Linked DNA regions of Homo sapiens: regions 1, 2, 3, 5 and 6 are each linked to region 4. The links come from fine-mapping of genetic effects on gene expression. A gene starts in region 4. Each other region holds a variant in brackets. All regions are shown on one strand. Distances are from middle to middle. Region 1 has its middle 15 kb from the start of CRISPLD2. Region 2 overlaps USP10 (ubiquitin specific peptidase 10). Region 3 overlaps USP10 (ubiquitin specific peptidase 10). Region 4 holds the start of USP10 (ubiquitin specific peptidase 10). Region 5 overlaps USP10 (ubiquitin specific peptidase 10). Region 6 overlaps CRISPLD2 (cysteine rich secretory protein LCCL domain containing 2).

Evidence for each region. PIP is the estimated chance that this variant, and not a neighbour inherited with it, causes the effect.
Region 1: its variant is fine-mapped to the expression of USP10 in whole blood (INTERVAL, PIP above 0.99).
Region 2: its variant is fine-mapped to the expression of USP10 in whole blood (TOPMed, PIP above 0.99).
Region 3: its variant is fine-mapped to the expression of USP10 in whole blood (TOPMed, PIP 0.93).
Region 5: its variant is fine-mapped to the expression of USP10 in whole blood (TOPMed, PIP above 0.99).
Region 6: its variant is fine-mapped to the expression of USP10 in whole blood (TOPMed, PIP 0.90).

What each region holds. Positions count from the first base shown.
Region 1 is chr16:84,802,379-84,807,612 of GRCh38, reverse strand. No RefSeq gene overlaps it. Among named protein-coding and RNA genes, the nearest start is that of CRISPLD2, 15 kb to the left of the region's middle. RefSeq lists enhancers at 442-1,018, 1,019-1,597, 2,765-3,265 and a silencer at 858-1,057. The variant C/T (reference allele first, on the strand shown) is at 2,458.
Region 2 is chr16:84,760,998-84,766,231 of GRCh38, reverse strand. It overlaps USP10 (ubiquitin specific peptidase 10), which reads right to left. Exons shown (of 14, transcript NM_005153.3): 9 at 3,144-3,243; 10 at 1,969-2,146. Among named protein-coding and RNA genes, the nearest start is that of CRISPLD2, 56 kb to the left of the region's middle. RefSeq lists a silencer at 5,015-5,234. The variant A/T (reference allele first, on the strand shown) is at 2,201.
Region 3 is chr16:84,744,450-84,749,683 of GRCh38, reverse strand. It overlaps USP10 (ubiquitin specific peptidase 10), which reads right to left. Exons shown (of 14, transcript NM_005153.3): 4 at 4,011-5,051. Among named protein-coding and RNA genes, the nearest start is that of USP10, 47 kb to the right of the region's middle. The variant T/C (reference allele first, on the strand shown) is at 2,524.
Region 4 is chr16:84,698,405-84,702,404 of GRCh38, reverse strand. USP10 (ubiquitin specific peptidase 10) reads right to left here and starts at 2,405. Exons shown (of 14, transcript NM_005153.3): 1 at 2,294-2,405. The coding sequence starts at 2,314. RefSeq lists silencers at 1,834-1,943, 1,984-2,093, 2,104-2,323, 2,414-2,933.
Region 5 is chr16:84,766,552-84,770,996 of GRCh38, reverse strand. USP10 (ubiquitin specific peptidase 10) reads right to left here. Exons shown (of 14, transcript NM_005153.3): 11 at 2,639-2,804. Among named protein-coding and RNA genes, the nearest start is that of CRISPLD2, 51 kb to the left of the region's middle. The variant T/C (reference allele first, on the strand shown) is at 2,431.
Region 6 is chr16:84,907,633-84,911,632 of GRCh38, reverse strand. It overlaps CRISPLD2 (cysteine rich secretory protein LCCL domain containing 2), which reads right to left. Exons shown (of 15, transcript NM_031476.4): 15 at 2,125-4,000. Among named protein-coding and RNA genes, the nearest start is that of LINC02176, 18 kb to the left of the region's middle. RefSeq lists a silencer at 1,363-1,478. The variant C/T (reference allele first, on the strand shown) is at 1,780.

The DNA of each region.
Region 1 (5,234 bases), 100 kb before region 4:
CATGTCTCAGCTTCTGGTGGCCGGCAATGCCTGATGTCCCGTCTGTGGCCATTCCAATCTCCGACTTCCTCTTCACATGGCCACCTTCCCGGTGCATCTGTGTCCAAACTTTCCTCTTCTTATGAAGACATCAGGCACTAGATTAGGGCCCATCCTAGTTGAGTGTGACATCATCTTAATGTGATTACATCTGCAGAGACCCTAGTTCCATATAAGGTCCCATTCTGAGGTCCCAGGTGGACATGGATTTTTGGGAAACGCGATTGGACCCAGCATTCATTGTAACGGGGCCTCTGCAGACGTGATTCTGCTAAGGGTGGTGACATGGGAAGAGCGGCCTGAATTCTCCTGTGGCCCCCACGGAATCACAAGCCTCCCTTGTAAGAGGGAGGCCAGAGGGTCAGCGTCAGAAGAGAAGGTGCTGTGATGATGGAAGCCGAGGTTGGAGTGATGCACTCTGAGGATGGACGAAGGGGCCATGAGCCCAGGAGTACAGGCAGCCTCTAGAAGCTGGAAAAGTCAAGGAGACGATTCTCCCCTGGAGGTTCCAGGAGCAACCAGCCCCGCCCACACCTTGACTTTAGCCCAGTGATGCCGATCTCAGACTTCTGACCTCCAGAACCGTAAGATGGGATACTTAAGCTGTTTCCAGCCGCCAACCTTGTGGTCACTTGTTACCGCAGCCATGGGAAACCAGATGCATCCATGAAGAGCTGTGTCTGTGACACGGCGTCGGCAGGGCTGCAGAACCGGGCTCCTGCGCCGCCCTTCCAGGGGAAACAGCCATGAATGAGCCCTCAGGCAGCCAACTGTTTCCCTGCAGAGCACCCGGGCCCGGCAGGCAGCCGGCTCCCAGACCACACACACTCCGCACAGTCCTGAGTCATCTGGCCTGAAGGTGCTTCCCTAGAGCCTCTTTACCGGAAATGGCCTGCGTTCGACCTGATTATTTTTCTAGCAATCGATGAACACTTCCCAGATGCAAAATTGGATAGCGGCCAGTTCCAGGCTGTGCATGGCCCAGGACGACCAATGCAAGAGCCTCCGGGGGGTTCTCTAGCCCGAGTGGTGTCACTGCATTCCCACTGTCCCCGAGCACCCACGGCATCACCGCCACCATCAGGGGAGCCTGAAGTGCCTGCAGAAGCTCTGGCCAGGCCCAGGGGGTGGACAGGAAGTCCAGTCATCCTCGGCATCCTGTGAACCGCTGCTTCTTGCATTTTTAATCTCGGCGGGTCCCACTTGCGTGTCTGAAAATGCAACTGCCTTATTTTCCCTAACAGGGCAGTTGAGGGGTGGGGTAGTACTTAACCTTGACAACAGGACATCTCTTGGTTTCTTTTTTTTTTTTTCTGAGTCGGAGCCTCACTCTGTCACCCAGACTGGAGTGCAGTGGTGCAATCTCAGCTCACTGCAACCTCCGCCTTCGGGGCTCAAGTGATTCTCCTGCCTCAGCCTCCCCAGTATTTGGGATTACAGGCATGTGCCACCATGCCCGGCTAATTTTTGTATTTTTAGTAGAGACGGGGTTTTATCATGTTGGCCAGACTGGTTTCAAACCCCTGATGTCAAGCGATCTGCCTGCCTCAGACTCCCGAAGTACTGGGATTACAGGCTTGTACCACCATGCCTGGCTAATTTTTGTATTTTTAGTAGAGATGGGGTTTCACCGTGTTGGCCAGGCTGGTTTCAAACTCCTGACCTCAAGTGATCCGCCTGCCTCTGCCTCCCAAAGTGCTGCTTACAGGTGTGAGCCACCATGCTCAGCCTCAGTCTCTCTATATCATCTCTGTTAATTTGCAGTGGTCTCTGCAGCAACTAGCCCACCCATGTGCACTCAGAGCCACTCAGGGCCCTCGCTCTTTCCCTCCTTCCTCTCCTCTCCCCCTAGATGAGTGGGAAGGAAGTTTAGGGACTTCACGGTTTTGCAGAGAGGCAAAGACGGAGCCCACCCACCGATCTTTTTACATGACAGGAGCCGTGATTAATTTCCCGGGGATGTCCTAATAAACTGCTGCAAACTGGGTGGCTAGCAATAGAGATGTGTTCTCTCCCGGTTCCGGAGGCCAGCGGTCTGAAATCAAAGCGTCTGCAGAGTGGAGAGAGGGAAGATCCTTCCTGCCTCTTCCAGCTTCCAGGGGCCCCAGGTGTTCCTTGGCTTGTGGCCGCATCACTCCCATCGCTGCCTCTGTCCTCGCGTAGCCTTCTTCTCTTCTTATACGGACATTCATGGTTGCACTTAGGGCACACATGGTCATCCAGGATGGCCTCATCTCAAGACCTTCTATTGATTACAGCAAAGATACTTTTTCTTTCTTTTTTTTTTTTTTTTTTTGAGACAGAGTCTCACTCTGTTGCCCAGGCTGGAGTGCGGTGGCCTGATCTCGGCTCACTGCAACCTCCGCCTCCCAGGTTCAAGTGATTCTCCTGCCTCAGCCTCCCGAATAGCTGGGACTA[C/T]GGGCGTGCGCCACCACGCCCAGCTAATTTTTGTATTTTTAGTAGAGGCGGGGTTTCACCATGTTGGCCAGGATGATCTCAATCTCTTGACCTTGTGGTCCACTCACTTCGGCCTCCCAAAGGGCTGGGATTACAGGCGTGAGCCATCGCAGCCAGCCTATTTATTTATTTATTTATTTATTTTAGATGTGGTCTCGCTCCATCACCCAGGTTGGAGTGCGGTGGTGTGATCTCGGGTCACTGCAACCTCCGCCTCCTGGGTTCAAGCGATTCTCGTGCCTCAGCCTCCCGAGTAGCTGGGATTACAAATGTGCACCACCAAGTCCGGCTAACTTTTGTATTTTTAGTAGAGGTGGGGTTTCACCATGTTGGCCAGGCTGATCTCGAACTCCTGACCTCAGATGATTCACCTGTGTCGGCCTCTCAAAGTGCTGGGATTACAGGCATGAACCACCGTGCCCAGCCAGATTCTTTTTCCAAATAAGGTCACATTCACGGGTTCTGGGCATCAGGGCTTGGATATATCATTCTGGGGGCCACCAGTTAACCCACTCCAGCAAGCTTGGACATACCGGGCCACATCGGCCTACAGGGCTTGGGGAGTCACCCAGGCTGGGGCTGCTCCACTGTGCACGAGGGCTGTCCTCCACCTTGCACTGGAGGGAGCTGCCTCGTAACACGTTCGCTCTCAGCCTCCTCCTTAATCTGCCTCCTCCCTTGACTCCAGGGTCCCGACCAGGGGCAGAAGCTCTTTTTCACCTGTCCGCTCACCTTGCTGGAGCTGGGAGGGAGGATTTTCCACCTTCTTATGTTTGGGGTGTTCCTTCCATGAGGCACTGGGTTTTCCATCCCCTCTGGCTGATAATAAGTTTGAAGTTCAATAGGCCTGACCTTTTTTTTTCTTTTAAATTTCTCACTGACTTTGTTGTTTTTTTGTTTTTGTTTTTCTTTTTGTTTTTGTTTTGAGACGGAGTCTCGCTCTGTCACCCAGGCTGGAGTGCAGTGGTGCAATCTTGGCTCACTGCAAGCTCCGCCTCCTGGGTCCACGCCATTCTCCTGCCTCAGCCTCCGGAGTAGCTGGGACTACAGGCGCCCGCCACCATGCCCGGCTAATTTTTTTGTATTTTTAGTAGAGACAGGGTTTCACCGTGTTAGCCAGGATGGTCTCGATCTACTGACCTCATGATCCGCCTGCTTCGGCCTCCCAAAGTGCTGGGATTACAGGCGTGAGCCACCGCGCCTGGCCCTTTTTTCACTGACTTTGTAAAACAATCGTTTTTTTAAAAAAAACTTTTAATTTCCAGGGTACATGTGCAGGATGTGCAGGTTTGTTACTTAGGTAAACGTGTGTCACGAGGGTTTGTTGTACAGACTATTTCGTCACTCAGGTATTAAGCCCAGTATCCATGAGTTCTTCTTCCTGATCCCCTCCCCGCTCCCACCCTCCACCCTCCGACAGGCCCCAGTGGGTGGTGTTCCCTTCTATGCGTCCATGTCTTCTCATCGTTTAACTCCCACTTATCAGTGAGAACGTGCGGTATTTGGTTTTCGGTTCCTGCGTGAGTTTGCCAAGGACCACGGGCCTGACTCTTGATGCAAAAGGGGTGCAAAGGATGTGGGCAACCCCGTTCCCCTCTTCATTCCTTCCCAGGGCTCTGGTCTCACTGAGAACTCTAAAAGCTAAACAAGTTGCTTTCCTGCTGAGGTTCTGCTAAGCTTTCCTAGTCCCCCGAGGCAGGTAGGGGCTCCAGCTGAGGAGGAAAAAGGTCGGCTAGCCAGAAATTCAAATGACGGAAAGACATCCCTGTGTTCTAAGAAATAGGATCCCCTGACGTCCACCGACCTGGGCAATGTCACCAATAGGAGGCCTCAGAAGCACTTTTAACATCAACCTTACAGGGGGTGGGGTTTATACACAAGCACGTGTACCCATTTAAGTGGACAGCTGGATGAGGAACAGATGTCTATACCCGCCCAACTACCACCATGATACAGAATGTTCCCATCACGCCCATCTGCGTCCCACCTCCCCCAGCAACCATGGATCTGCTTTCTGTTGCTTTGCTGTAGACTTGCTTGCCTGTTCAAGAATATTCTGTAACTGGAAGCATACGGCATGGTCGAGGACTCCTTTTTTTTTTTTTTTTTTTTGAGATAGGGTCTCGCCCTGTTACCCAGGCTGGAGTGCAGTGGCGTGATCTCAGCTCACTGCAACTTCCGCCTCCCAGATTCAAGCGATTCTCCTGCCCCAGCCTCCTGAGTAGCTGGGACTACAGGCAAGTGCCACCACGCCCGGCTCATTTTTGTATTTTTAGTAGAGATGGGGTTTCACCATGTTGGTCAGGCTGGTCTCGAACTCCTGACCTCGTGAACCACCCACCTCGGCCTCCCAAAGTGCTGGAATTACAGGCACGAGCCACCACGCCCAGCCAGTCGAGGATTCTTGACTCCTCTCTTCCCTTCCTGCTCCCCTGAAACTCGTCCCACACCTGGTCCACTTGACGCAGGTAGAAGCCACATCAGTCCCTCCTTTCTCCTGCAGCCCATCCGCCATTTTGGTTGGGGGCTCTGGACTCACCCTATGGGGAGGCGCTGTGGCCCAGTGGCCAGCTGCCCACCTCCTGGGTTTGGATCCTAGCCCACCATTTCCTCACTTGAGACGCTGGGCATGTTCCTCAGGCTCTCCAGGGCTCAGCTTTCCTCATCTGGGGAATGGGGCTGAGAACATCAACCTCCGTGCTTCAGGAGCAAACAACAACACTAAAAGTTCTGGCTGG
Region 2 (5,234 bases), 63 kb before region 4:
AATCCACTTCCACAGAGGACGGGAAACCAGCTTCTGAGGGCGTCAGCGCAGGTTTCTGAGGTTCTTATTATTCACCTGTTGAAAGTTGTTGATTCAGTCTCAGAACTGAGACTGAATCAAGTCTTGATGCCTCAAAAGGGGTGCTCTTTCTTTCAGGTACGCAGCATTTGGGACAACAACAGACTAAGAGTGTCACTGAAATACCAGCCTGGGGGTTATGCCGCAAGGCCTCAGAAAGGAAATTAGGCTCCAATGAGGCCTCTTCAGTACTTTCGATGGGTAAACCTTCTTGGAGATGGTACAAGTTTTGCTGAATTCCACATCACAGTGGTACTGAAAAGCTCTCAGGTAAATAAAGAAAAACCTTTCCGAAGGACTTTGTGAATGAGCAAAAAGCTGCTTAAGGGAACTGGCACACAGCCAGGTGCCCAGGGACTCCAGCCCAGTCACGGGTCTGTCTGTGTAAAAAAGACCTCCCTTCACACTCTCTTCACTTTCTACCTCACCTGCTTCCAATCAGTTCACAACAGCCAAGACAGGGAAACAACTGTCTGTGGATGGGCCAATGGATAAAGAAACTGTGGTGTGTATATATAGACAAGGGAACACTATTCAGCTGTAATAAAGACCCTGCCATTTGCCACAACAGGAATGAACCTGGGGAACATTATACTAAGTTAAAGAAGTCAGACACAGAAAGAAAAATATTGCATGGTCTCACTTATACATGGAATCTTTATTAAAAAAAAAAAAAAGACGAAACTACAGAGATAGGGAAAAGAGTGGTTCCTAGGGGTGGCGAGTGGGAATGGAAGATGTCGGTCGAAGGACACCAAGGGCAGCCACACAGGCGAACAGGTCTAGAGATCTGATGTGGAACATCGGACAAGAGCTACTCATAGTGCACTGTATTTGGGACTTTTGTGAAATGAGTAAAACTGCAGCTGCTCTTGCCATGTGCACACACACACACACAAGGGTAACTGTGATGGGGAATATGTTTATCTGCTTCACTGTAGCAACTATTTTACTATCTCTATTTCATAACATCTGTGTATACTTTAAATATACACAATTTATTAACATAAATAAAATTCCTCCAGATACACTGTCTTCTCTTACCAAAACACATGGTTTGGTTAGCTGGTTTTTTTTTTTGAAGACAGTCTTGCTCTGTCACCCAGGCTGGAGTGCAGTGGTGTAATCTTGGCTCACTGCAACCTCTGCCTCCCGGAGGTGGTTTTATGTTGCAAGTTTTAAATGCAGATGAAGTCTAATATATATATATATATTTTTTTTTCTCTCTCTCTCGTGGTTATTGTTTATGACCTATCTTATGAAACCTTTGCCTACCCCTAAGTCATGATGACATTCTCCTGTATCTTTTTCTTTTTTTTTTCTTGAGACAGAGTCTCACTCTGTCACCCATGCTGGAGTGCAATGGCGCTATCTGGGCCACTGCAACCTCTGCCTCCTGGGTTCAAGCGATTCTCCTGCCTCAGCCTCCCTAATAGCTGGGATTACAGGTGCCTGTCACCACACCTGGTTGATTTTTGTATTTTTAGTAGAGACGGGGTTTCACCATGTTGATCAGGTTGATCTCGAACTTCTAACCTCAGGTGATCCACCCGCCTTGGCCTCCCAAAGTCCTGGGATTACAGGCATGAACCACCGCGTATGGCCAATTAGCTGGCTTTTCTCTTACTCCCTAGCAGTGAGCAGCTGAACTTGACAGAGTAGAAGGGAGGAGCTCCCTGTCCCCTGCAGACATGCGCCAGCAGGGAGAGAATAAGCCACGGGGGCTGACAAGGGAAGCATCAGGAAGTGCAAGAGAAGAGCAGGCAGGGGAGCAAGATGCAAACCATTACGTCCAAGAAGTCTCAAAACAAGCCTCACACCTTCCCCCTTCACCAACATGGCAAAACCCTAGAAAAGGCAAATATTAAGTTATTCCAGAAAAGCACAAACCTGATGTGTCCACCAAAAATGCCGGTGATTGGAGTCTGAACAAAATCCGCCTGGCGGGTGACGGAAGTCTTGTTCCGGGGGCCCACTTGTTCCCATTCATCCTCGCTTCCTTCACCTTGTTCTTCCTGCTCTTCTTCATTGACCGAGTGGTTTTTGGGGCCGTTGGAAATCGTAAGTTCTGAAAAGGAGAGCATCTGCTTACACTACTATTTACGACAAGAACAGCAAAAAA[A/T]AAAAAGGCACAGATCTGTCGATTGCAGTTTTAAAAATGAAATCAGGGTGTGGTCTACATTAGGAGCCACGGCAACCAATCGCAACAGGAGCAACGTCACTGGATCCACGGCCAATCGCAACAGGCACAATGTCACTGGATCCACGGCAACCAATCGCAACAGGTGCAACGTCACTGGATCCATGGCAACCAATCCCAACAGGCACAACGTCACTGGATCCACGGCAACCAATCGCAACAGGTGCAACGTCACTGGATCCACGGCAACCAATCACAACAGGCGCAATGCCACTGGATCCACTGCAACCCATTGCAATGCCACTTGATCCACGGCAACCAATCGCAACAGGTGCACCACCACTGGATCCTTGTTTACATAAACTCCTAGAAATGACATCCCTGGGACAACTGGCGAAATTTGAAGATGCTCTGCAAAGTCGGTATTACCGTGTCATTACAGTTGTTTTTCTCAGTTAGATAAGGGACTGTGGTTACGCAGGAGATGCTTTAGCACCTGAGATGAACTAAACTGTTAGCTGCAACTTAACTTTGAATCATTCAGGGAAAATGTATGCGTATGTATGTATATATGGATGGACAGATAAGACATATATATATATACACAGTGTGTGTATAGCATCAGAAAATATGTTTAAAACTGTACACTCGGCAATTATAAAGGTATTCATCAAACGATTCTTTCAGCTTTTTTATAGGCTTGATCATTTTCCTAATTAAAAGTTAAAGGAAAATGGCAGAGGTTCGGGATAAACTGTAATTTACCTAAATATAACCTTCTCGATGGTGTAAGTTATCGTAGGGAATAAATGCTATTTGAAAGGAAAACGACTGAGGGGCAGGGAAGCAACATAACATATGAGTATGCAACACCTGTTTACAGCGAACTCTTGCACAACTCTGCGGCAAGTGGACCATAACCTACTTTCATTACTTGGTGAGAGAAGCTTCTTTAGGTTCAACATTTCCTCATGAAGTCCATTTAGAATGAAGCCTAAGTATTCCTCAGCATCTTCTTGTCGACCCTGAAAAGGTCAAATATAATCACGTTACTGTGAACTGATCACTGTCAAAGGCCTGCAGGACATGCAGTACTTGCAAAGTCCAACCATGCCTCCTCTGAAATGGAAGATGTAAAGTATTTCCAAACAATGACATGATGACATGGGTTTCCCTTGCATAGCTGAAATCCCAAGAGTAGGAGGAAAAGGAGAAACTGACTAAACACATATCTCTAAATGGGTGGACTAATGGGGATTTTTATTATTTATACTTTCTGTATTTTTGAAATTTTCTTCAATAAATATACTTTTTTTTTTTTTTGAGACAAAGTCTCATTCCGTCACCCAGGCTGGAGTGCAGTGGTGCAATCTCAGCTCAGTGCAACCTCCAGCTCCCGGGTTCAAGCGATTCTCCTGCCTCAGCCTCCCGAGTAGCTGGGACTCCAGGTGTGTGCCACCATGCCTGGCTAATCTTTGTATTTTTAGTAGAGACGGGGTTTCACCATGTCGGCCAGGCTGGTCTCAAACTCCTGACCTCAGGTGACCTGCCTGCCTTGGCTTCCCAAAGTGCTGGGATTACAGGCATGAGCCACCACACCTGGCCACATTACCTTTATCACAAAAAAGTTATTTAAAAAAAAGTTTCTGTCTTGGGTAAACAAAATAGAAGACGAAGAACTAGATGTCTAGGGCCAGTTCACTGTTCAACTGCAAGGGTCACCACTCGAGCAATGAGCTAAGCAGCCCTATGTCTGCTTCTGTCTGTCTTTGATGATGGACAACTACATGGGAAAGAACTCAAACTACATGTGGAAAAACTCCACTGATTTAGAGCGTTAGCTGTGTTACACATACATCAGCAAAATCATTCACAGACGAGTCACCCAAGAGTTTAATAATCCCACATCACGAGTGTTTGATTCTGTTACTTATCATCAGTTCATATTTCATTCTTCACAGCACAACTGCCTATTCCAAGGCCCTGCAAATTGTTCTGTTTGAAGCATCTAGGTAAACTGCAAAGTTTACTTGCCCTCTCCAGATAGTAGACGTGGACAGCAGCTGTTCACGTGAGTGCATGCTCTGCACGTGTGCAGAAAAGGGCAAAAACTGGCACAGCCAAAGTGTGCTGAAGACTTTTCATAGCAGGCCTGGGTGGCTCTCCTTGGAAAGGCCTGCTTGCAAGGTTGCCCCTTGGCTGGTGTCTGGGAATTTGGATTTCAGAAAGGTTCCCATCGGTCCAATAACTGATACGGGATTCTGCCTAAACCGTTTGCGCAAGCAATGTGCTTTCTGCTGAACACTTTGCTTTTGTTTTGGGAGTTTGGACTTTTGGTTCAAGCCAGGCAGATGGTACCTATGGGACCAGCCCTCAGTAAAAACTCTGGACACGGAGTCTGTAATGACCTTCCCTGGTTGGCAGCATTTCACGTGTGGTCACAGTCTGGTGCTGGAGTAGTTACGCGTAGCCTTGTGGCCCCACTGGGAGAGGAGTCTGGAAGTTTCCTTTAGGCCCTGCCTCACCTGTCCTTTCCCTTCCTGACTCTGCTCCGCATGCTTTTGCTGTCAGCAACCATAGCCACGGGTATACCAGCTTCTGCATTTTCTGAGTTCTTCCAGTGAATCACCCAACCTCAGGGTGGTCTTGGGGAGCCCAACACATCCCCTATTAATGTAACCTTTAGAAGATGCTTTTGTTCATAGCATTATCTCTGTGCACGATCCAAGAGGGGTTCCTGAGCACCCACTTTATTTTGCCTCCACCTGTGCTAGGTGGGCCCCTCTGGGTTCTAAGGCATCTCTGTATCTTTGTGCTTCTCTTGTTGACTATTCATTAACTCATTCCCTCACTGAGGGCAGAGGGCGCACTTCATTCCATTTCTGCATCCCTAACACCATGTTCCCATTACTTGGGAAGTGCAAATTCCAAGCCAATACCAAAAGCTGCATTATAAGCATTTAAAAAGCTTAAGACCCTATGCTACCCCTGGTGGTATCCTGCAACGATGCCCTCG
Region 3 (5,234 bases), 47 kb before region 4:
TAACAATAGGGGAAATAGTCCAGAAATGTGAGTATTTGAAACAAACTTGAGATAAAAAATACACAAATTATTCCAAGCATTTTGTGTGTGTATAATTTTTTTTTTTTTTAAAGATGGGGTCTCAGTATGTTGCCCAGGCTGGCCTCGAACTCCCGGGCTCAAGTTATCGAGCCTCAAGCCTCAATCTCCACACTATCATGCCTGGCAGAAAGGAATACATTTAATGTCTAAATCATTCCCTACTCCCTCTTTCCCAAAAGTTAATAACACAAATACCACTGTCTCAGTAGAAACAGTTAGATACTAATGCAAGTCAAACTCTATTATAACCCACATCAACAGATCTTTTAATGAAACTAGACTTTCACTCAGTTAAACGCTGCTTAAAATAAGTGGGCCTACACTTAAAAGTGTGCCCACTAAAGGGAATTTGTGGTAGTGGATCTGACTTGTAACAAACTGAGTATGTTTTACCACTTTTATAAAGTAAATCCCTAAGTAGGAGAATAAAACAACAAAAAAAATTTCAAACAATGCCATTCTCCCTAAGCCCTATATGATCCCAAGGGTTATTCAATGTGACTCTATTGCTCTACTATCTCACGAGACTCCTGAAACTGTCAACAACTACGTTCTGTCTATCGAAGCCTCAACAAACAGGCTGAAAAGAATTATATATTTTTAAAGAAACTACACTTTTGCTCAGAAAATTAAAACATCTTCATAACTGACCTAACCAAATAGGATTAAAAAAATAATCTGTTTGGTAGGGGTTTACAATATGTCCACACAAAAATAATTACGTGGACTGTGTGTGGCAAGGCTTTCCTCTACTACCAGTCATTAAGAGGCCCTTACTTTCAGTGTTTGACAAAGCTACTTCAATTAGACTTTAACATATACAGAACATAACAAACTATTTATCAAACTATATTTAAAGTCATATGACTAAGTAGAATGTTCTAAAACATTTTAAATGAAGCTTTTCTTGGTTATTTTAAATAAAGATAGAGAAAATCTCCCTAAGATGGGAGGTTTTCCTTTGTGGAGCAATTTTAGAAACGAAACTATAATATTCTCAGCTGGGCGCGGTGGCTCACGCCTGTAATCTCAGCACTTTGAGAGGCTGAGGCAGGAGGATCACTTGAGGTCAGGAGCTCAAGACCAGCCTGGCCAACATGGTGAAACTCGGTCTCTACTAAAAATACAAAAATTAGCCTGGCGTGGTGCCAGGCACCTGTAGTCCCAGCTACTAGGGAGGCTGAGGCAGGAGAATTGCCTGAACCCAGGAGGAGAAGGTTGCAGTGAGCCGAGATTGCGCCACTGCATTCCGGCCTGGGCGACAGAGTGAGACCCCCTCTCAAAAATAAAGAAAAGAAAATAAAATTCTCATGACTTCGAACTTAGAATGCACATTTTTAACAGGACCCCACCATGCATTTCTCATTATAGGTTAAAAATAAACTTTTAACTTAGTAATCTATATAAAGGCTTACACAATCTATCTTTTTTTTTTTTTTTTTTTTTTTTGAGATGGAGTCTGGCTCTGTCGCCCAGGCTGGAGTGCACTGGCGCCATCTCGGCTCACTGCAAGCTCCGCCTCCCAGGTTCACGCCATTCTCCTGTCTCAGCCTCCTGAGTAGCTGGGACTACAGGCGCCCGCCACCACGCCTGGCTGATTTTTAGGTTTTTTTTAGTAGAGACGGGGTTTCACCGTGTTAGCCAGGATGGTCTCGATCTCCTGACCTTGTCATCCACCTACAGTATCAGTCCTTGCAATAAATACATTCTGAAAGCTGTATTCAAGAAATCGCCTGGCCTGAGTGCGGTGGCCCACACCTGGAATCCCAACACTTTGGGAGGCTGAAGCGAGCAGATCACTTGAGGTCAGGAGTTTGAGGCCAGCCTGGGCAGCATGGTGAAACCCCATTTCTACTAAAAATACAAAAAAAGATAGCCAGACATTGTGGCATGTGCCTGTAATCCCAGCTACTTGGGAGGCCGAGGCAGGAGAATCACTTGAACCCAGGAGGCGGAGGTTGTAGTGAGCCAAGATCGTGCCTCCTGCACTACAGCCTGAGCAACAGAGTGAGACTGCATCTCAAAAAAAAAAAAAAAAAAAAAAAAAATCACCTGGCTTTAAAAAATATATATGAAGCCCAAAATAACGACGTCTGGCCTATCATTTGCTCATTTAAGAGAACTTCAGAACAACAAGAGTACCTGAGATAATGTATTTTGTATAAGGAATAAAATACTCTTAAAAATATATATACATTGCTTGCTATCACCCTATTGCCACCCAAAGAATGTGTTTTATTTTTTACACAATTCTGACCATCCATCGAAGGGTGTGCATTTGGCAGCTTGCTGCTACATCCTGGTAATGAAGGGTGTCAGGTGTTCCAAAAGGTCACATCAGAAAGTATTACAGAAAGCCTAAACCAAACAGCTTATTTTAACTTGGCTACTAGGGTGACAATCTGAAGATCTGGTCACCAGGCTTGGTGGAATCCAACCTGA[T/C]GACACAGCTTCTGCTTCTTAGGTACGTACAGTCACGCGCGGCGTAACATTTCGGTCAACAATGAGCCGCACGTATGATGGTCCCACAAGATTCTAGTGGAACTGAAACGTCCTGCCGCCTAGTGGCGTCTTGATGCTCCTGACCCTGTGCAGGCCCAGGCTAATGTTTGTGTCTTACTTTTTAAGTTTAAAAAGTTAAAAACAATTTTTAATATGAAAAAGCTTATAGGAAAGTAAGAATAAAAAGGAAGAAAATATTTTTGTATAGCTGTAGTGTGTGTTTTAAGCTAAATGTTCTCATGAAAGAGTCAAAAAGTTTAGAATTTTTAATTTAAAAGTAAAATAAAACGTAAAAAAGTTACAGTAGGTTAAGGTTAATTTCTTATTGAGGAAAAATTTGTAAATCAACGTAGTACAGCCTAAGTGTTGACTGTTTATAAAACTCGGCTTTGCTCAGTACTGTCCTGGGCCTTCACATTCACTCAGCACTCATCACTGACCCATCCAGAGCCACTCCAGTCTTGCAAGCTCCATTCACGGTGAGTGCTCTATACAGGTGAAGCACTTTTCATCCTTTATACCATATCTGTACTATATTTTTTCTATGTCTAAATGTGTTCAGGCACACAAATACTTAGCACTGTGTTACAACTGCCTACAGTATTCAGTAGTAACACGCTGGACAGGTTTGCAGCCCGGGAGTAATAGGCTGCACCACCAGCCTAAGGCTCTACCACCTGTATTTGTGTAGTACTCTCTGATGTTAACACGCACATCTCGGAACACATATCCATCTTAGTTAAGCAACACGTGGCTATGTGAGGACACATACCTCTTTCATACCCTGCTGCATTTCTGACTTCCTACTGTAACTTTTTAAAAACAATCTGTGAATTATGCAGCTTTCTATTTTTATTGTGAATTGTTTCTACTTTGGAGCCTTAGCACTCTAAAATAAAACATTAACTTTGGGCTGAACCCTTAACATTTTTTTTCTCTTCAAGAGCTGACCTTGGTGTATCAAAATTCTGAATAAAATCCATTTACTCAATCCAAAAAAAAAAAACCATGTTATTTCACAAAATGATTTCTTGTATCTTAAGAAATATAAAAAAGGAGCACACAGTGAGTACAAATCAGGATTATCATACCAAAGGTATATCACAGAAAAAGTCCATTATACATTCATACCGTGGAGCAGAATTACTTGAACAAAAGGCAAGAAATGGAAATGTAACTTGTCAACAGAAAAGAACTGCTAACAGACATGGATCTTTCACTTAACATAAAGTTACGACAACCCTCTCCTCCCATTTGTTTCTATATTATCTTACTTTTAGAGAACATTTAAGACATAGGCATCCTTCAGACGTTGCTATTAACACACAGGTAATCTGCCATTGTTATGGGTAACACCACAGTCTATAAGCCCAGTTGATGAGGTCTGCTCCCATCTTCACTCTAGATTTGTATCTTTTCAACTATACCTGCAATCTTTATGGCTACAGGATCCTCTGAAACCGGAACAAGCCCTTCTTTGACTTCAACCTGCTTTTCAGAAACCAGGGGAGATATGGCGGGAGGGGAATACTTAGTTTCCACATAGGCCACCGGCGAGGAGGAAGAGGGCTTAGAATCATGAAAGAGGCTGGCCCAGGACTTGGGCTGGCTGACAGGAAGGGTGCCTGATGCAGAGCCCGTGCCGTCAGCAGGAGGTGATGCACTCTCGGGTTTGGTTGGGTCCAAGTCTATGCTTTCCGTGGTGTGCAACTCCACCCCGTTGGTAGCTGTGCCCTCACCCGAGGATTCAAGTATTTGTCCATTAGCAACTCCAAGGTTTTCAGTAGTATCGGTACCAACGCAGGGCTGAGCCCCAGCTGTCCTTGACAGGGTGTCTCTGCCAGCCTCTGCAGGGAAGCAGGACTGACCAAAATCAGCCCCGGGGCCCCCCTCTGGCTGCCCTGCAGTCCTGGTGTCACTGCCGAGTGCTCCGGGGAAAGGACTGTCAGGCACAATGTCACTGACAGAGTCTGTGGAGTTCTGGGGGCTGTTACAAGTCCTGGGCGTAACTGACGGGGGCATGTCACCCATAAATTCTGCATCCTCTGCACTGACACTGTTCGGGACTGCTGAATTGGCATGGCCATTGACCAGGGCTTCTGTGGAGATACTATCATCGCCACCATCTTTCAAATAGCTGTAATATCCAGGTGGCCGCTTTTTCTTCTTTTTACGCTCCCTTTGTCCAAGACCACCTGAGACACCATCATTTTCCAAAACTTCCGCCTCCACATTAGAACTTCCATCCAAAGCGAGGGCAGAGCCTGGGTACTGGCAGTCGATGGAGCCATAGCTTGCTTCTTTAGTGATACCATCAGGGGTTATTTTGGAAGCTGTACAACCGAGAATAAATTCAGGGGCCTGAGGGTTCAGTGTGCTTGAAATACTGTAGCTGGGGGTTCTCGGCAAAGTGTCACTGGGTTCAATGACTTCATCGACACCAAACTCAATTCTCTGATATTCTTGTCCTGTTTAGAAAGAAAACTATTAGTTAAGAACCCAGTTCTACAAACTCTAAGTACCAGTAATTACTCACTTTCTCTTTGAAAATAAAAACCTTAAGTTCTCTTCCTAATCAACAAATCTATTACGTCCTTTACTTACGCTGAACAATTTGCGGAAAATGAAACAACTATAAAATTATTATTTAA
Region 4 (4,000 bases):
CTTGTTTGCATTACTATTCTTTTAAAATGAAAATTATGAGAAATCGGCCAGGCGCAGTAGTGGCTCACGCCTATAATCCCAGCACTTTGAGAGGCCGAGGCGGGTGGATCACCTGAGCTCAGGAGTTTGAGACCAGCCTGATCAACATGGTGAAACCCGTCTTTAATAAAAATACAAAAAATTAGCCAGGCATGGTGGTGGGCGCCTGTAATCCCAGCTACTTGGGAGGCTGAGGCAGGAGAATCGCTTGAACCCGGGAGGCAGAGGTTGCAGTGGGCCGAGATCATGCCACTGCACTCCAGCCTGGGCGACAGAGCAAGACTCCCGTCTCAAAAAAAAAAAAAAAAAAAAAAAAAAAAGAGCGAAACTCCATCTCAAAATAAATAAAAAAGTTTATAGGTTAATAACCACAGCACTCCAGCCTGGGCAACAAGAGCCAAATTCCAACTCAAAAAAAAAAAAAAAAAGAAGAAGAAAATTATGAGAAATCAAACTATTTCCTTTGCTACTTTCTCCATGCTAAAACTTAAAAGCATTTAAATCATACTTTAAAAGAATAAACCCAAAGTGTTGCTAACATTTACGTTCCGCCAACTTTTGCTACTCCAATTTTCTAAAGATGTGTATAACGCTTTAGACTGTTGTATAAAACGTAAATACTGGGACAATGAATGCAAACGAAATTACAATTAAGTTTACATATTATCCATCCCCATTAATTAACATTTCAATCAACCTTGAATTGTGATTGATGCTTATTAAATAAAGGAAGTGAGCTATGCCTAAAGATGCTTTCTTCATGTCAAAATCACAAGGAATATTACACATTAATTCATAATGAGCCTTTTACTTGTTCATACCAATTCTAATAAGCTAGTTAATTAGGATTTAAGTTGAGAAAAAAGCAAATATCAAATCTTTTTTTTTAACAGAAAGGTCTAAACAAAGCTAAATACACCAAATCTCTTAAAATCTTTGGGCTATACATTTGTAAAAATTATTCAACTACTGATCCCTTTTTTGGCGCAAAGACCTACACTACTTACAAAAGTAAATGAATAAGGGAACAAAACGTTAAAGGGGGAAATTCTGATGCAAACTAAACTACAGCTAATTTAACAAAATTGAAGCTTGTCGTAAGATCTAATTTTTTAAAAAGTTTTCGCATTTTAGATTCCACAACACGCATTCATTACAATAGTTCCGAAAATCATGTTTCAAAAGAGGTGTAGTCAGATTGACTTCATCTGCAGAAGGGCAACAAAACCCAATTGCTCATGAAGGGTTATGATTTTACTCGCAATCAGTTTCCCGAATGGCTACTTTGTTTCATTTCCCCATATTTAATACAAATACACAATGAGATGGTTTAAAAGTGTGCAACAATTTATAGGGACCAGATGTCAACAAATTAGCAGTCTAAAGCAAGGCTGACAAATAATACATCATGCCGATTTTTGTCCAGAATAATTATAATGGCGGAGGGGGGAGAAGATGTGAGAGAAGGGGTGGGAGAGGGGAATAAGAGCTTAACTCTACACGCACATCTCCCAAAAAGAGCTCTTTCTTTCCACCACGGGATTATTGTAAAGGGCCCCCAAGCTTTAGCTACTGTTCAGGCAGGGTGCGTTAGTTGTCAGCCTGGCTGGGATGGATTCGTGCAAGGGATGTCACTCAAACGCAAGTGAAAGTACGGTCCTTGCGACTTATTTCGAGTTTTCTTTGCAACAGCAGCCCAAGGCCGCTACTCTGCTACTTCTATCTAAAAAACAGAAAATCGGCAACCCCCGCATCATCAATCAAGCTGAGAAAGGAAGCTCTTGGGGCAAAGGGGCAACAGGGCACCCCCAAATCTCTGAGGCTCGCTCCAGGCAGAGGCAGCAACCTGAGCTGCTCTGGGGCCCCTGCGCTCCAGGGGACTCCCGGAGCCCCCGGGCCGCCTCCCCCGGCCGGCGCGGCGGGGAGGGCCCCACTCCACACCCCGGGCTCGCCCCGCGGTCCAGCCCCAGGGAGGTTAACCCCTTCGGCGCCCTCCACGCCCTCCCCAAGCGGGGCCCGGAGCCCCCGCCCTTCGACCTCCCCGGGACTAGGGGGTCCGGGTGGCTCAGGGGACGAAGGCGCGGCGGGCGCGGAGGCGGCGGGTGGCTCCGGCCTAGGCCCGGGCAGCGTGTCCCAGCGCCCTCCCCCACTCCCACACGCTCGCTCCGGGCAGGGCGCGGACGCCCGCCCGCCGCGGCGTCCGCCCGCCCGGGGCTCGGGCCCCTTCCGGCCGAAGGCGCAGACCGGCGGCTACCTGCGGGCTGTGGAGGGCCATGGCTGCCCGTTTCATTGGGACTCCGCGATCCTCCGGCTGCTCACGCTGCTTCCCCCGCCGCCGCCATCTTCTCGCCCGCACATACACACTCGCATCGGCCGCCGCGCCTGCGCACTGGCCGCGCGCCGCGGGGCGCGGGGAGGCCGGCCCGCTGCTGCGCCTGCGCGGCCGACAGGTGGGCGTGCGCCTGCCGGGCCGCGGACATCCCCTGCCCCGCCTGGAGCCTGCCGGACTCTGAGCCCCGCGACCCTCGGGCGGAAGCGGCCGGGCGGCTGCACACCAGGAGCCCGCCGAGGCCTGGCTGTGGATCCGGAAGGGGAGAGGGCAGGCAGGTAGAGGTGGCAACGCCAAGGCGCCGGCGGGCCCGGCTCCTCACCTACTGGGGGCCACCTGGGCCCCCGGAGCCCGGGAGTCGCGGGCTGAGGTCGGCCTGGGGCCCACGAGCCGCCCTCAGCGTACCTGGGCCCGGGCCTCGGGAGTGTTCGCATTAGATCCCCGAGGAGGGTCTGGTTTATGAAGATCCCGTTGCCGCGCATTCATTCATTTGTTCACTCTTCATTCACTCCCCAAGTCCTGCCTGGGCGCCTGGGCCACGCCTTTGGCTAGGCATTAGGGGAAAAAAGCAAAACAGACAAAAACAAAACGTAGGGCATAAAAGCACGCGTAAAGTGCTTGACATGAGGCCTGGCAAGTAGCAAACACTCAGCAAGTGCTACGTGTTGCACACGTGCGTGCGTGTGCACGGGCAAACCAGCCTTGGGGGTCGTTGGTTCATTCATTATTAAGAAACAGGGGCCCCTGCCTAACTGCACTGTTTTCCAGCCAGTGGGTCCACCCTTGGGTTTTGGCCCCTTTTCTAGCTGTGATTTCAGACAAGCGACTTTCCTTCCCTAAGCCTTGGTTTCCTCACCTGTGAATAAGACAAATATGTCATAACGCGTAAGATTTCTGTGAGGTTCAAATTAGATTAACGTGAGCACACTGGCCAAGAGAATAGTCAATAAAAATTGGCTACTGGGATTGTTATTAATAACCATTACTATTGGTTTCATTTATTCAACAAACACCTACAGAGAGTCTGCTCTTGCTAGACCGTACACTGAGCAGAGGAGATGAACAGGAAGATCCATTCCCACGTTACATAAAATAGGGAGCCTGGTCTCTTCATAAATGGGATGCCATGAAAAATATAAGTGGGCCAGGCGCAGCGGCTCACACCCGGAATCCCACACATTGGGAGGCCGAGGCGGGCGGATCACTTGAAGTCAGGAGTTGGAGACCAGCCTGGCTAATATGATGAAACCCCAACTCTACTAAAAATACAAAAATTGGTGGGATGTAGTGTGGCACACCAGGCGTCCCAGCTACTCAGGAGGCTGAGGTGGGAGGATCACTTGAACCCCGGAGACGGAGGTTGCGGTGAGCCGAGATCGTGCCACTGCACTCCAGCCTGGGTGACAGAGCGAGTCTCTGTCTCAAAAAAAAAAAAAGAAAGAAAGAAAGAAAGAAAAGAAAAGAAAAATATAAGTGGTAGGGAGGGGTTGTTCCAAAATAGAAGAGCTAGAAAACATAACCAAATACAATGTGTCATCTTGCTTGGATCCTGATATGTCTTTTAAGCTGGTTTTACTATTTGTTGACAATTGGAGACATTTGAATATGGATTGGATATGGGTGATCTTCGTG
Region 5 (4,445 bases), 68 kb before region 4:
CAACCTCCACCTCCAGGGTTCAAGTGATTCAGCCTCCTGAGAGGCTGGGACTACATGTGCACACCACCATGCCCAGTTAATTTTTGTATTTTTAGTAGAGATGGGGTTTCAACATGTTGGCCAGGATGGTCTCGATCTCTTGACTTTGTGATCCGCCTGCCTCAGCCTCCGAAAATGCTGGGATTACAGGCATCAGCCACTGGAGATTTTTTTTTTTTTTTTTTGGGGACGGAGTCTCGCTCTGTCGCCCAGGCCGGACTGCAGTGGCGCTATCTCGGCTCACTGCAAGCTCCGCCTCCCAGGTTCACGCCATTCTCCTGCCTCAGCCTCCTGAGTAGCTGGGATTACAGGCGCCTGCCACCATGCCCGGCTAACTTTTTGTATTTTTAGTAGAGACGGGGTTTCACCGTGTTAGCCAGGATGGTCTCGATCTCCTGACCTCGTGATCCACCCGCCTTGGCCTCCCAAAGTGCTGGGATTACAGGTGTGAGCCACCTCGCCCAGCCAACTGAGGCTTAATTTCTAATCACTCAACAAAGGCAGACATTTTCTATATAGCAAATATTTCATATAATCCTATTTTCCCCAAAACCTTCACATGTTCCCACAGAAAAATACTTCTGATCTAAAACATAATAAAGTTAAAGGTGGCATTTTAAAAACTTAAAAAAAAACACATTCAAGAAAATATGTAATTTGCTCCTTATAGATACTTCCATACAAGCTGTCCCAAATCTTCCTGAAACATCTGCTGTTGAAAGTGGTCCTGGCCTCATCTGGTAACACACCACCACAACCACGCACCCAGAACGGCTGGCAGCATCCTTTTTATCTTCCGGAGTCCACCAAAATGCCAGCTTTCCTTTATTTTTATTTCTTCTTATGTTTTAGAGACACGGTTTCACTATCGCACAGGCTGGAGTGCAGTGGCGTGATCATAGCTCACTGCAGCCTCCAACTGTTGGGCTCAGGCAATCCTCCTGCCTCAGCCTCCCAAAGTGCTGGGACTAAGGGCGTGAGCCACCACACCTGGCCCGCCTTCTTTCTGGAAGCCTTCATCCAAACCTGCTATTTAGGATAAACCATTCTTTCTTCACTACCGTCTAACAACAGGCTAACAACTACCTGCGCCTCAACCCCTGCCCCCACACCGCCACCCCTACCAGCCCACCCCAGCAAAGTCAAACTGTAATTGCAGCAGAAGCAAAAGAGAAAAACAGACACATCACAAAAGGGTCTTCCCTAGGCAGCCCATGGAAAGGCTGACCACCTCCCCAACAGCATGGGTGGCCAAAGACTCCCATAGCTGGCTCAAGAAACAGCATAAGCAGAGTGCACCAGCAGCCAGGGCCAGGGAGCTATCTCTGGAGTTGCAGCTGCCACAGAAGTGAGCCAAGCCGACAGTCACCCACAATGCACAACTGAACCACCCAACCAACCTCCCCAACACAAATACCACTTTTTCCCTCTCTCTCTTCCACGAGGTCCACCGCCAGACTCTTCTTAGCTCATTCACTGAAGTCAACTACCAAGTTTCTGCCTCTGGCTCCTACTGCTTCTATTTTTTAAACAAAATCACCCATGAGATGCAAGTCTGCAAATACGGTAGAAGATTAGGCATAACTTCTACTGATCCCCCCAGAGCCTGGGTGAACCAGTCCACAGCAGGACACCCCGAAGGTGCTAAGGGTCCCTATGTCCTACTTTGCTCTTTCTGACTCAGAGCACACAAGATAAGCCAAGGATAGATCCATCCCAGTCATGCAATGTGATGACAGGTCTTCTACGTTGGGGCACCTTATTTTACCTTGTAGCTGCCATCCACTGCCCATTATTCAAATATCGCTTTGCAGGAATGCTATGGACCGTCCATAATTATCAGCCTGCATTCATCTCCCCAGTGCATTTTTATGAATTCACTGCCACAACCTAAGATATATAACAGAGAAGACACTCTCTGCTGCAGAGTACAAAATAGCTATAAGCTGGCACATCTGGACAGCCAGGAACTAATAAGCTCTCACAGGGCAGAATGCTATCCGTCTCGCCCAACTGAGTTGACAAGGACTCCACCAAGCTATAATGTGATACTCTTAAATTCATGAAGACTGAAAGACTCAAGAATCTTACCTTTTCCAGATCAAATCAAAGAGTAACAAGCATCAGAACAATGACTATATTATATTTACAATGACTATATTATATTTACAATGACCTGGAAGATCTACAATCAAATGCAAAACAGATGTGTCTGGAATCTCTCTGACATCCTAACTAATCTAATGACAGTTGTACCCTACGGTATCATGAACATAAATAAGCTATTTGGCCTCTGTCAGAGGTAGTATTGATGTTGTGATATCATCATTAGATTGCCAGAAAATTAAATGTAGCTCAAGATAAACAATCCAAAAGGAGATCATTACCTTG[T/C]GTAATATGATTTAGAGCTAAAAGAGGCCCTTGGGATCACGTTTCAACCATTTCATTGTAAAACCATAAAAACTTTCAGTACAAAATGGTTAAGCAACTGATTTAAGAGGCATAACTCAAACCCATTTCCCCTCATTCCTAATTTTGTGTTCTTTCCACCAAACCAGAGCACCTTAGTAGAAAGGTTCAAAATCAAGTGTGAACATACCTCTTGTTTGGTTTTTGTGGTATAACCTTGGACAGATTCTCTTGCCACCAAGCTCTCCAGTGCATCCTGGACTGTGCGTATCTTGTCTGACTGGATATCCAACTGCAACGTGAAAAATGGCTGCAAAGTGGCAGATTCTTTTGAACTCTGCTGGTAAACCACAGACCTAAGAATTGAAAGCAAAAACAAAAAAATTAAGAGACCACTCCTTGCCACTTTCCCTTAAGATTAACCAAGGGAATAAACACTGAAAATAAGATTATTCAATATCACTTTCAAAAGACCACAGAGAAAAGCCAAAAATATACTGAATTTAAAAATAATTCTGCTGAAGATGTGCTTTGTTAAACAGATGCTTGAAGGCAGCATGCTCGTTAAGAGTCATCACCAATCCCTGATCTCAAGTAATCAGGGACACAAACACTGCGGAAGGCCGCAGGGTCCTCTGCCTAGGAAAACCAGAGACCTTTGTTCACTTGTTTGTCTGCTGACCTTCCCTCCACTATTGTCCCATGACCCTGCCAAATCCCCCTCTGTGAGAAACACCCAAGAATTATCAATAAAAAAATAAATTAAAAAAAATAATAATAATTCTGCTGAATAGCACCTCCTTAGTATTTCTAACAACTAAATCTACCAGTTGATAAATGTTCCCAACGCCAGTGCTCTGGAAGAAAACATATTTCATTTTCCAAATTCTTTCACTTCCTCTCCACACTGTTATTTACTGCACCGGTTCATAAAGGCAGCCACCCTGCCATGGCCTCAAAACGCTGCTGCTTTCCATTTTCTCCAAGTATCATAGCCTGTTCTAATAAAATAGAGGAAATCCCAAGGTAAATAGAGGATTTTTAATGGCATTTTCCTCCTATAAAGATGTCTTACAAAAAGAAGAAGGGGAGTAGGGTGTGTAGAATAAAAAACAAGTTAACATTCCAGGAAAAAAGGCTGCCACCCTTCCAAGAAGGGCGCCAATTTGACCTTGTTTTCTTAGCTGGTTTTTCATTTCATTTTTTTTTTCCTTTTTCTAAGTTTTTCTGAGTAAAAATTGTGTGTTCGGCCCATCTCTCATTTAGCCTCAGCAAGGAAACATTCCAGGGGTTCAACAAGGGCTTCTATTTCTGCAGTCTCGGTGACCTAGTTTCTCAACGGAATAAAATGGGTGTGGACAGGTACTCAGGCTTTCCAGAACAGATGCGGTGAAGAGCTCGCTAAAAGCTTTTCTGTCCAGGGTTTAATTACGCATCTCCATGCTCCTTTACAGTTTGAAGACTTCAGTGACAACAGTTCCCCTGGTTCTGGAGAGGGATACAGTAGTGGGGAAACCGCTCATGAGAGCTGGTGGAGAATCAAGAAGCCCTCTTGATTCAGTGGTCCTGTGTTTTAGCAAAGGTGGCACCGGGGAAGAAAGGCGGGGAAGTCTTCCTGGGGAAACTGAAAAACATCTGAAGAGGCTGAGTTTTAGAAGTAAATCTTTCAATTGGTGTGAATAAAGAATCATGCTTAACAATGGCTGAAAAGAAGTTCCTACGTTGTAAGAATTCCCTATCTTTGCTTTACCGTTTTTCAAAAAGAAACATCAACAACCAATTTCAACACAGAGACCCCTCAGAGGATGTGGCTAGCAGCTGTGACAGAGCTGTTCAATCTGAGCCAGCAAGTCCTCCAAATGGACGCTGGTATTTTCCACTGGTTACTCTTAGACAAATTTGGGATCTTTGAGTATGCTGACCCTCTGTGGCCTTGAAATTCTGATACCCGGCCTCTGCACAAAAACCATGTTCCCGATGCCTCCATTTGAGCTGTC
Region 6 (4,000 bases), 210 kb before region 4:
CCTGCACAATCTTAACTTACTCAACATTTTAAAATGGACATTTTAAAAGCCTGGTATTTCTTAAAGAGGAAAGCTATCCCCATCACGCATGGAAAAGGACCGCACTAGAGATGAGCCTGAGAGGAAGGCAGGCGCCTTCACCGGGGAGAGGAAAGGCCGGCCCCGTGCCCCCAAATTGCTCTGGGGCTTTGGTGCATTGAGGCACTCAGCGAGATGTGACTGCGCTTGGTGAAAAGGGGCTGCTTTGGGCTGATGCCTGGGAAGAAGGTGACCGTTACGAACTAAATTTCCCACCCTGAACACATAGGGTTTTCTTTGTTTGTTTTGTTTTTGAGATAAAGTCTCACTGTATTGCCCAGGCTGGAGTGCAGTGGCGCGATCTCGGCTCACCACAACCTCCTCCTCCTGGGTTCAAGCCATTCTCCTGCCTCAGCTTCCCAAGTAGCTGGGATTACAGGCGTGCACCACCACGCCTGGCTAATTTTTGTATTTGTAGTAGAGATGGGGTTTCACCATATTGGCCAGGCTGGTCTCGAACGCCTGACCTCAAGCAATTCACCCACCTCGGCCTCCCAAAGTGCTGAGATTACAGACACGAGCCACTGTGCCCGGCCCACAGGGCTTTGAAATGATTCCAGACACCTCCACAGGTTGCTACGTGGGTGACGCGTTTTGCTGCGCTAAGAACTTGGTGTGCCCCTTCTTCCCTGGAGAATGTGGCCTCACCCCTTATCGGACCCCGTCTGCGAGCTCCTGACCCTCACGACTGGACTTCCATACACATGCAAACCTGCCAGTGGGACGGACCCTTTGGGAGCTCTGGCTGTGGCCGGCTGCACCCTCGGCATCTTCTCCCAAAGCTGGGAGCTCCAGCTGTGACAGGTCACCCCGCCAGCCTTGGAGCTACTCTCAGAAGCCTCTGGCCAGCGCTGGAACTGCCTTCTAGGGACCTTACAGCGCTTCCAAGAACGGCTGGTAGAAGGTGCACCTCAAACTGAGGCCTGCTTCCATCCTAAGTGAGCAAGTAGGCCTTGATCATTCTGGAACTGACCCACTGTGGGGTTAATGGGCTTCGTCTGTCGAGTGTATTCTCTGTGAGGTTTGGTCTCATTCTCTCCCTGTTTAAGCACTGGGAACCTAAGGAAAAAACATCTTTGTGTAGCAATAAACTGTGTGATTTGTGAAATCGTACTTTGATCATTTCCTTATTGTAACCACACAAAACGATCCCTAACCCCCAATGTATTTCTTTCGTGTGTGTGTGTGTGTGTGTGTGTGTGTGTGTCTCGCTCTGTCACTCAGGCTGGAGTGCAGTGGTGTCATCTTGGCTCTCTGCAACCTCTGCCTCCCAGGGTCAAGCAATTCTCCTGCCTCAGCCTCCCAAGTAGCTGGGACTACATGCATGCGCCACCATGCCCGGCAAATTTTTGTATTTTTTTTGTAGAGATAAGGTTTCCCCATGTTGCCCAGACTGCTCTTGAACTCTTGGACTCAAGTGATCCTCCTGCCTCAGCTTCCCAAAGTGCTGGGATTACAGGCATGAGCCAGCCTGTGTATTTCAAGGTAGGGCCTTTAAGGAGGTAATTCAGGTTAAATGGGTCCTAAGGGTGGGGCCCAGACCCAATATGACCGGTGTCCTTATAAGAGAGAGAGAGAGACACCAGGAGTGTACATGCCCAGAGGAAAGGCCATGTGAGGACACGGCCAGGGGCAGCCACCTGCAAACCAAAGAGAGGCCGCAGAGGAAACCAACGCTGCTGGCACCCTGATCTTAGACTT[C/T]CAGCCTCCAGAACTGTGAGGAAGATATCTCTGTGGGTTAAGTCACCCAGTCTATGGTATTTTGTTAGGGCAGCCGGAGCTTAGACAGAATGGCCTTGAGCCCACCACCACTCAGAGTGTGATCTGGGGACTGGCAGCATTCGCATCACCAGGATCTTGGGAGAAATTCACAGTCCCTGGCCCCAACCCAGCCTTGCTGAGCCCGAAATTGCATTTTGGCAAGCTCCTCCCTCCTTCCCGCGGATGGGGTGGAGGTCTCCACCAGGCCCTGGCTGTCAGCATCTCTGTGTATATGAGACATCCTAGCAGAAGCAGCCAACACAAAACAGTCCAGAGCCTGAAAGATGGTTTTCAATGTTTTATTTCACAAATTGTTCAGATTTGTTCATAAAAGATATGTTACAGGAACATTTTAGAAATCAAACCAGTTCTACTGAAACAATTGCAACAACGTGGCCCCTGTTCATGCAAAGCACAAAAAACATTTACAATAAAACTTTGTACACAGGAAGTAGCAAAATACATCATTTTTCATAGAAAAAAGCACACACATAAACTGCGGGCTGAGTGAGCCTACAGACAATATGAGAAACCAGCACACGCTTTGGAATACGGTAGGGCAAAACTCCTAAGGAAGCCGAAAATGTTCATCCTGTGGGCAGGAGAGCCAGGAACGCCGTTGGCTTGGTACAAGATCTTTTTAAACACAGGGTAAGTGTTGGTAGCACGAGGGGCCTCTATTCCACACACAGGAGAGGTGGTGCTAGGGACAGGGCTTATCATTTATAGTCTTGTTTCCATTTTCTGAAGACAAATATTCCAGTTTCAAAATGTTTGTGGGGATGATAAAGACAGCCAGGTCCATGGCCGGGCGCAGTGGCTCATGCCTGTAATCCCAGCACTTCGGGAGGCCAAGGTGGGTGGATCACCTGAGGTAAGGAGTTCGAGACCAGCCTGGCCAACATAATGAAACCCCATCTCTACTAAAAATACAAAAATTAGCCGGGCATGGTAGCTCACGCCTGTAGTCCCAGGTACTTGGGAGGCTGATGCATGAGAATTGCTTGAACCCGGGAGGCGGCAGTTGCAATGAGCAGAGATCACGCCACTGCACTCTACCTTGGGCAACAGAGTGAAACTTGGTCTCGGGAAAAAAAAAAAAAAAAAAAAAAAGACAGCCAGGTCCTGCTCTGGGCAAGGACTTTCTATCCTGCTAGGAAGGCCCAGTGAAGGAGGCATTAAGGAACCCGGGGACTTTATTTTTAAATGATGGGGTCAACTCACACTGGAAGTTTCAAGTCTCCCTTGAGTGGGATGCTTTGGAAGCGAGCCCACTGGGATCGTCCTGGACCCTTCACTAATTCTGCAAACCCCACAGGGCGATCTAATTTATCTTGCAGACACAGACACAGCCACAAAAGTCCAGCAGCAGAGCACCCAGCACCCAGAAGTTTCCCAGATGTTTGGTGGTAACTGGACTCACGACCTGACAGGCTGACCGAATTCTTCCTCTCCGACATTTGGGGCTGAGGAGTCAGTACCTATGAATTACGACTAGACTACAATGCACAAAGCACGTAGTCCTGTGAATTTTAGCTCAGTCAAGCTAAGAGTTGAACTGCTTTTTACCAACTCCTTAAAGGGGTGGGTTTTTGTTTTGTTTTAAACCTATTTACCTTCAGATTCTGCATTTATTAGAAAGGCAATCAAAGAAAGAAGGCATCACCTAGGTGCCCAGGTAGAATTTCTTGTCCAGTCTACAGTATCTTAGTTTTTGACTTTCTGCTAGTTCTTTCACCTAAGAAATATTTTGAATCAAATTTGAAACTAGCATTCACCAAAGTGATCTATTGGCTGGCCCGGTGGTAGAGAGTGGAATTTTCACCTTCTGCAAAAAAATGCTATTTACAAAAGGGTACTTCATTTCACTGTGGGCTTTTGGTCTGGGCTCATGAAGCACTTTTATAGAGTGATGGCAGCCAGGGTGTACTACACTCCTTGGCGCCTCGGGAACGTTTGGCAAGAGTCGTTTCACGAAAACAGGAAAAGAGATCCTTCTAGTGTATTCCCATCTCTCGCTGTCATGAGGCCACAGACGGTTTCATAACCACAAACTGAGCTGCTAACCTCGGTGAGGAATGTACCAAAGACTCCATTCCTCCCACGGCTGAAAAAATAGGTCATCGGGTGCGTGGGGAATCTGCACATTTAATTGTCATTT